Linked DNA regions of Homo sapiens. The protein of the gene in region 2 interacts with the protein of the main gene of each other region in a biochemical or structural test. Each region holds a gene or a part of one and is shown on either strand. Other genes may lie near its edges.

What was found. Proteins that work in one complex are often made in the same cells at the same time.
Region 1: the proteins of HTR2C (region 2) and DLG1 interact in a test that uses a peptide from one of them, tested with the Homo sapiens proteins (2 studies listed by IntAct, with this or other methods).

The regions. Positions count from the first base shown.
Region 1 is NC_000003.12:197,291,866-197,295,617, forward strand, and holds part of DLG1 (disks large homolog 1), read right to left. Parts: intron 2,084-3,752; exon of another isoform or gene 2,013-2,083; intron 1-2,012. UniProt on the Homo sapiens protein: Essential multidomain scaffolding protein required for normal development. Recruits channels, receptors and signaling molecules to discrete plasma membrane domains in polarized cells.
Region 2 is NC_000023.11:114,581,984-114,585,735, reverse strand, and holds the start of HTR2C (5-hydroxytryptamine receptor 2C isoform a precursor), read right to left. Parts: upstream 1,651-3,752; 5' UTR 1,077-1,650; intron 1-1,076. UniProt on the Homo sapiens protein: G-protein coupled receptor for 5-hydroxytryptamine (serotonin).

The DNA of each region.
Region 1 (3,752 bases), on a different chromosome or scaffold from region 2:
GCTCAATAAATGTTGGTTATTATGTTTTACATACACTTGAAGAGGAGTCATATACTCACACTTATTAGGATGGCTATTATCAAAAAAAGAAAGGAAAAAAATTAAGTATCGGCAAGGATGTGGAGAAACTGGAAATCCTGTGTGCTGCTGGTGAGACTGTAAAATGCTGCAATCACTATGGAAAACATTATGGTGGGCCCTCAAAAAATTAAAAATGTAACTGCCGTATGATCCCACAATCCTATTTCTGGGTAAATATCCAAAAGAACTGAAAGCAGGGTCTTGAAGAAATATTTGCACACTCACATTCCTAACAGCATTATTCACAACAGCCAGGAGGAGGAAGCAACCCAACTGTCCATCAATGGATGGCTAGATAAAATGCGGTATATACATACAACGGAATATTATTCAGCCTGAAAAAGGAAGAAAATCCTGTCAACAACTACAACATGAATGAACCTTGCGGACTCTACACTGAGTGAAATAAGCCAGTCGCAAAAAGACAAATACTTCTATGAGGTTTCTAACATGATCAAATTCACTGAAACAGAAAGCAGCACGTTGGTCACAAGGGGCTGGGAAGTGAGAGGAAAGGGGAGCAGTTGTTTATTCGGTATAGGATTTCAGTTTTGCAAGACGAAAGTGTTCTGAAGATTTGTTTCACAACAATATGAATACATTTCACACTCCTGAACTGTACATTTAAAGATGGTGAAGATGGCAAAGGGGTCATACTTTTGAAACTAGTATCTACAAATAAAGATAGGGTAATGTCCTTTTATAAGGGCTAGTGAAACTATTAGATTTTAATAGAGTGGCAACAAATGAACTGGTAACTAAACTCATAAATGGACAGTATTATTACATAATCCACTTTCATTCTGAAATCTCTGCAGAAATAAAACACTGCATTAGAATAAGCTTATTTATTGCAGACAAAATATACAAATCACATGACTCAACTTACTCAAGTCTCTAAAGCCAGCCTAATCTTGGGCCCCAGTTTTTCTCATGCACAAGGAAAGCAGATGAGTTCTCTGATCCCGTAAGAAATAACTGCAGGGGTTTAGACTGGTATGAAGTCTCTATGGACTAGCAGTGTCATCTCAGATCCCACACACCTTAGAATCATGAATGAACTGAAACCACTATGGACCTGAATACCTGGGCTCTGATTATAATCAAACCATATCCCGTCTACTCAAAAAATTTTCAAACTTAAGCACAAAAAACTGGAATACAAAAGCAAGTTTTCAAATTGCTCTCACCTAAATCACAGAGTGAAATTAAGCAGACTTTATCTTCCTTTATACAAAAATAATCACCAGGTATGTTTTGGGAGTAAATTTTAAACAAATGTGCAGTTCATGGACTTTTGTTAAGATACAACTTTAAATATTTAGCTCTAAAGAAACAATACATCAGCTGAAATTCAAAATTAGTAAAAACTTTTCTGCTTTCAATAATTTTTAAATCTTTAAGCCATCCTTCAAAGATACTACCAAGTATCTATCAGCACTAGACCAATGATTTCTATATTACATTGCGAGTATCAATTATAAAATGCACTATTTCATGTGTCAGAACACAGAAACACTGTCAATTAAAAATGACATATACCAGATATTGAAATATTTAACAGTTGGTATTTTAGAACAAATATAATACAGTACGTACATGCTTGTCCCTCTGAATAATCCAAAAGTACAGGAACCTAATCTATGTATCAACTACAGGGGGGGACACCAAACCCCTAGAGACTCAAACTTTTTTAAATGCATGAAAAGTCAATATAAACTACCAGTTCAAAGAATCAATCAATAAATGATCAATGCAGACTGAAAATCCAAAGACACTTGGCACCCCAAACAGATAACTAGATAACTCACTGCGGCCTAAACAAGTGATTTCCAAATTAAGGAAGTGAAAAATCTAAGCACTCAATGACTCCAAACAGCTCAGGTGGCCAAGACCCCTGTTCTCCTTTAATCCAGTGGTCCACAGGTACCAACTCAGAAGACAGAGTGCCACTTACTGAGAGAAAAAACCTTTCAGTAAGTGGCACTCTGTCTTCTGAGTCGGATTTTTCTGCAAACACTATGGACACAATGAACTGGTTTAGCTTAGGGCAGTTTACAAGCTTAAAGTACATTTATGACACTGTTTCAAAACAATGGTAGAGTTGCAAAATACAAAGAAAATCTTATCAGACTAAACATTTTCAGACTAAGTATTAAAAGTTATTCAGGAAACACAAGAGAATGTATTTATTCCGTAGTATCAACAATTATAGCATGGAAACACACAGAACCTCTATTAAACGTTATCTATTTCAAAACTCCTAAAATCTATTACTTGTCTTACACCAAAATGTGATATAGTACCACATCCTATAGAACATTAAATATAAGTAAATTTAAATGTCAAAGTAAATTCACAACCAATGAAATTAGAAGATTCACAAATATAAACTTAGTAATTAGGAAGCTAACTCTAGGCCAGACGCGGTGGCTCACGCCTGTAATCCCAACATTTTGGGAGGCCGAGGTGGGTGGATCACGAGGTCAGGAGATCGAGACCATCCTGGCTTACACAGTGAAACCCCGTCTTTACTAAAAATACAATACAAAAAATAAAAAATTAGCCGGACGTGGTGGTGGGCACCTTTGGTCCCAGCTACTCAGGAGGCTGAGGCAGGAGAATGGCGTGAACCTGGCAGGCGGAGCTTGCAGTGAGCGGAGATCTCGCCACTGCACTCCAGCCTGGGTGACAGAGTGAGACTCTGCCTCAAAAAAAAAAAAAAAAAAAAAGAGAAGAAAGCTAACTCTATCAAAGTTCAATTGTACGTAAGAATAGACACATTCAAAACAGGCAAGGCAGAATAGGTCAAAAATGTCTCTGAACACAGCAAACCCATCCCCAATCTAGACAGAAATATAAATGTAGATTCTGTTATTTCACTAACGATTTAATTTTCTTAAGTTACAGCCATCACACAAAGAAAAGTCTGCAGTCTATCTATCTGCCTATCTATACATATATGTATATATATATCTCTATACTGTTGCGAAAAAACATACTTTTTTTGCAACAGTAACTGCACCAAATTACTAGGCTCAATGTTGATTTAGAAAACAAATAACTAAAAAATGCTTTTTGCTGTTTTTCCAGAGGAATCCAATTTGATCATCCATTCGGACCTTAAACCTCAGAAATTCAAATGTGTAAAAAATGTCCATCAATGTAAACAAAAATGGCAAAATGTGAATTTCTGGAGCTGGGTAACAGTTAAAAGGCAGTTCATTACACTGTGCTATGTATCCTTATGTTTTTAAAAGTCTATTAAAATGTTACATTTTTCAAAATTGTTCAGGTGCATCAAGTGGTCTTTACAAAAATCTTTCATTCTAAAACCGTAGAGAGCATCCATTTATCAATAATGTACCTGACAGGACACACTGACTTGAAAGTAGTCTTCAAATCACACCAACAATTATTCTATCAACAGATAGATGTAAGGCCATATCTGACTGGAAGTTACTGAAGAAATAAATGTAATATAATTAAGTATATGTCTTCTTATGTTAAAATGTTATATAGTTGATAACTAAAACAAAAAAAAAAAACTTCATTCTTAGAATTGGAAGAGACAAACTTTCTAGTTCGGTGGTTTGCAAACTTTTTGAGGTACCTGGACAAAAGAGCCAGACAAGTCACCTTGTTTTATACATAGGAGATTATACACAAAA
Region 2 (3,752 bases):
TAACTGCCGAATGTCACTCGCTGAATTATGAGTTGGGGAGCTCTGTTGCTTAAAATACAGGGTTCTCAAACACAATGCAAGTGTTTGTCACCTCAAGTCGCATACTACCCAACAGGAAGCAAAAGGCAAAGGGCATGGCGCAGAAAAGAAACAGACACACAGACACGTTTTGCAATGACGAACTTTATGTGACATCAGGAACGGCAACCTGTTCTCATGTTTAGCAATTCCGAGGAACGCTGTAAAGACTGCTTGTCAGGTAAAACTGAGTACAGGAATAAGAGGCAGCGCTGGAGACTTTTTCGCAATCCTTTTCAAAATATAGAACAGTAACCAAATGACTTAGATAAGCTAATTAATTATTTAAAAAAAGGTTCACTGGATGCCTTTATCCTCTCCTCTTAAGCTTACGTGATCACCAGCAGCGCTGTTCAAATTCAGCTAACAGCTGTTAGACCAAACACAGATCCGCAGTGTGTTATCTCCCCAGAGTTACGGATGTTCGCTGAGACCCGCCAGAAAAATTAGGGTCGCTTTTCAATGAGAACATAATAAAGGATCCTTGGTTCCCCCTCTGCACACACTGTCCCAAACCTTGCGCCCCCTCCCACTTGCCTGCTGTCGGATTTCTTAAAATTGTAGTCGGTCCTGCAACTCAGTTGCATCTTCCGCAGCCCGACCCTCTACTCAGCGACATTGCGTTCAGTTTCCCTCCTTTCTCTCCTCCCACTCCTCACTTCTTGAGACCCCACCCCCGCCTTCCGTTTCTGTCTCGGCTTCCCCCGCGCCAGGTTCTCTAGACCCCCGCCTCCGCCCAGCGTCTTCATCTCGAGCCCCCGCTCCCAATCCCCTTAGAGACTTCTATGCTCCTTCCGTGGAACCTAAGCTCCTCTCTTCTTCCAGAGACTCAGTCTCCTCGCGATTTGCGCGTTCAGAGTCCCTCCCCCCAACCTCCGCTAGGGCCAGTGCGGTCCTGCAGGCTGCAGCCATCCGGGACCTGTCCCCGCTCCCCACCCCATCCCCCGCCTAAATCGTTGGGGTCTCGGCTAGCAATGCCGCCCGGGGCTCCAACTTACCACTAGCGTCCGGGAGGAAGACCAGGCAGCGGTCGCCGCGGCGGCAGCTAGACGAGAAACGGACTCGGCTGCAATCGCCCAGCGGAGCCCGCGGCAGTCGGTGCGCTGAGCTGCGCTGCGCTGCGCGCCGCAACCTCGCGCCTCGGCGGAGGGAGAGGAATGGAGGGAGCTCGGCGCGATAGGAAGCGCCGGCGAGTCGACCTCCTTTGGGTGACCGTGCGCCCCCCGGCTAGGTTTGGCTCTTTTCGCTCCGCTATCTTACTCTAGCTTAGTAACTGACCACCTCCAGCATCTCTGCACTAATCGCGTCTTCTTTCTTCTTCGTTGGCCCCTAACTAACTACACTACTCTAAACGGACGAAGGCCATCACACGAGCGCCACGACGATCGCGACGACTCCGACGACAACGATGTACAGACAGAAGAAGAGTTCATATGCAATCGGCAGGTAAGGGGCAAGGCAGGCCAATGGAGCAGCCAAGGCTAGCAATCTAGCCGCTCCAAAGGCAGTATCGGGAAGATCGGTGCATCTGAGGAAGGAAGCGTCCTCGGCAAGCACCAGAGCGCCTACCTCGCGCGGGTGAATCTGCACCACGCTCTTGGGCCAAAAGCGGGATGAGGGGAGGAGCCAAGAGCAGCCAATCAGCACTCAGCATTACGTGGCCCCCGGGCCTGTTTGGACCGGTCTCTTAGTGCATCTGGAGCCTGCTGGCAGGGGGCGCGAGACCCCATGGTGGAGATGGGGGTGGGGGTGATGATTAATCTGATTCACAAGGCCTAGAGAGTAGGGGGAACCAGGATCAGCCATGGCACCGGATAGAGAGAGAGGGAAGGCTTTCTCAAGAATGTACCCTCAAAGATTCATAGCATACCCCTCCCCAAACACACACACACACACACACACACACCCCTGTACATTTCATTTCAACAAACAGCATTCTCAAGTCTTGCAAATTTCATCAAGCTTTGAAACTCCCTTCAAGGGTCTCTGTTCCGACTCTTGCCCATTCCTCCAACAGTAGCAACTGAGGCACTCACAGGGTCAAACATTTGGTGAGTGCGCAAAGGCCACAATCCTGTTATAAGGCCCACTTCCCCATCCTTGTCTCCCCATCCTTTCCCTAACCCCAAAGGAGAAAGAAAAGCTCTTGGCCTTCGAGCCCCGGGAAGGCACAGTTTAGTTCCTTTCTTGACCCCACAGGCCTCATTAGAAAGACACCTTGAGGGCAGCTCTTACGGGTTTCCAAGGGGGTGAACATATCTCTCTGGCACAGGGCCTTGGGCCCACAGCCAGTCGGTTGCCCAGTCGTTGTGGGGGAGGGAGGGGTGCTGTCAATGCAAGGTCAAGGCAGCAAGAGGTGAACCACAAAGGCTCTCTTTTGGCAACTGCTGGGATGCCGAGCTGCAACCGGTCAGGCAGAGCTCTAACCGGTCAGGCAGAGCTCTTTTTCACAGGCTCCCAGGCGCAACCGGGCAGGTGCCTGCGGTGTCCTGGCGGCAGCGCAGAGAAGGGTGAACGGGGCCCCCTTGGCTCAGAGGCACCAAAACCAAGCTGAGTAATGGAGATGATCCCACGGAGAATGGGGACAGAAGCAGATCTCTCCTAAGAGGGAACGAAGGGGCGAGCGGGGGTGGTGGTCTCGGGTCGCGGCCGAGGTTTCTCGGCCCTGTACCGAGGACCGGGGTGGGAAAAGTGGAGATTGGCTCCCCGCCTGTCGGAGGTAGCTGGACCGAAGCAAAAGATCGAGCCTCCGGTTTGGCTACTTAGGACCGGACGGCAGCGCAGCGAGTGTATAGAAGAGGCTACAGAGAGGCCGTACAGAGAGAGGCTTGGAGGACCTAACCCGGCAGAACGCAAAAGGGGTGGGAGCTGCCGGCTATTCTGAAGGCCGAAGTTTGCCTCAGTAGCCCCAAAAGTTAGAGATGGAGAAGGAAGTGGAAGCAATGATAAGGGTCAGGCCCCTTCCTTATTCTGGATGCCCTAGGAACAGTCATTTCTCTCTGTGCCTCTGTTTCCATATTTGTGAAAGGAGCTGTCCAGTCTATTCCAAAAGGGGCATTTTGGGAATCCTCTGATTCCCTCCATCGCCACTGAATTCAGGCTTTGAAATTTAATTTGGCAGTGAACATACTGTCGGCACCCAAGTTCTGTTTCGAAAAGCAAAAACCCATCGCAGTTTTCTTGAAGCATCTGTTGAATGCTGCTGTATGATGCCGCACAGGTGGCTGCGACAGCGCTGCCAAGTCCACCGACTGCACAACGCTCGCATCTTTAGAAATGCTTTGGTAGCGAACAGTAATTTATAAATATGGAAGAGAAAACGTATGTCTTCTCTTTAAATAATTAAGCACTCATCTTTAAAAACTCCCCAAGTGTCCCCTTACTCTATGAATGTGGAATGCTTAGTCTTGCCTTTTCTGGCGGGACTCGTATTTATTTTGTCAGAGGCTGAGACATTTATATTACTTCAAAAAATGTAAATATAAATCCCTGTGATATTTTTGCTAAGCCAAAATGGATCTGCCGAGCAGCGAGTGGAAGTTAGCATCCGCCAAAACCTGTTCTCGCTCCCCGGCTCCCGGGGGAACCGGCTTGGAGAAATTGACCATGATAATAGCAATTATGAGGATGAGGATGATGGTAATAATAGTTTTTATTATTATATATTTCGCTCT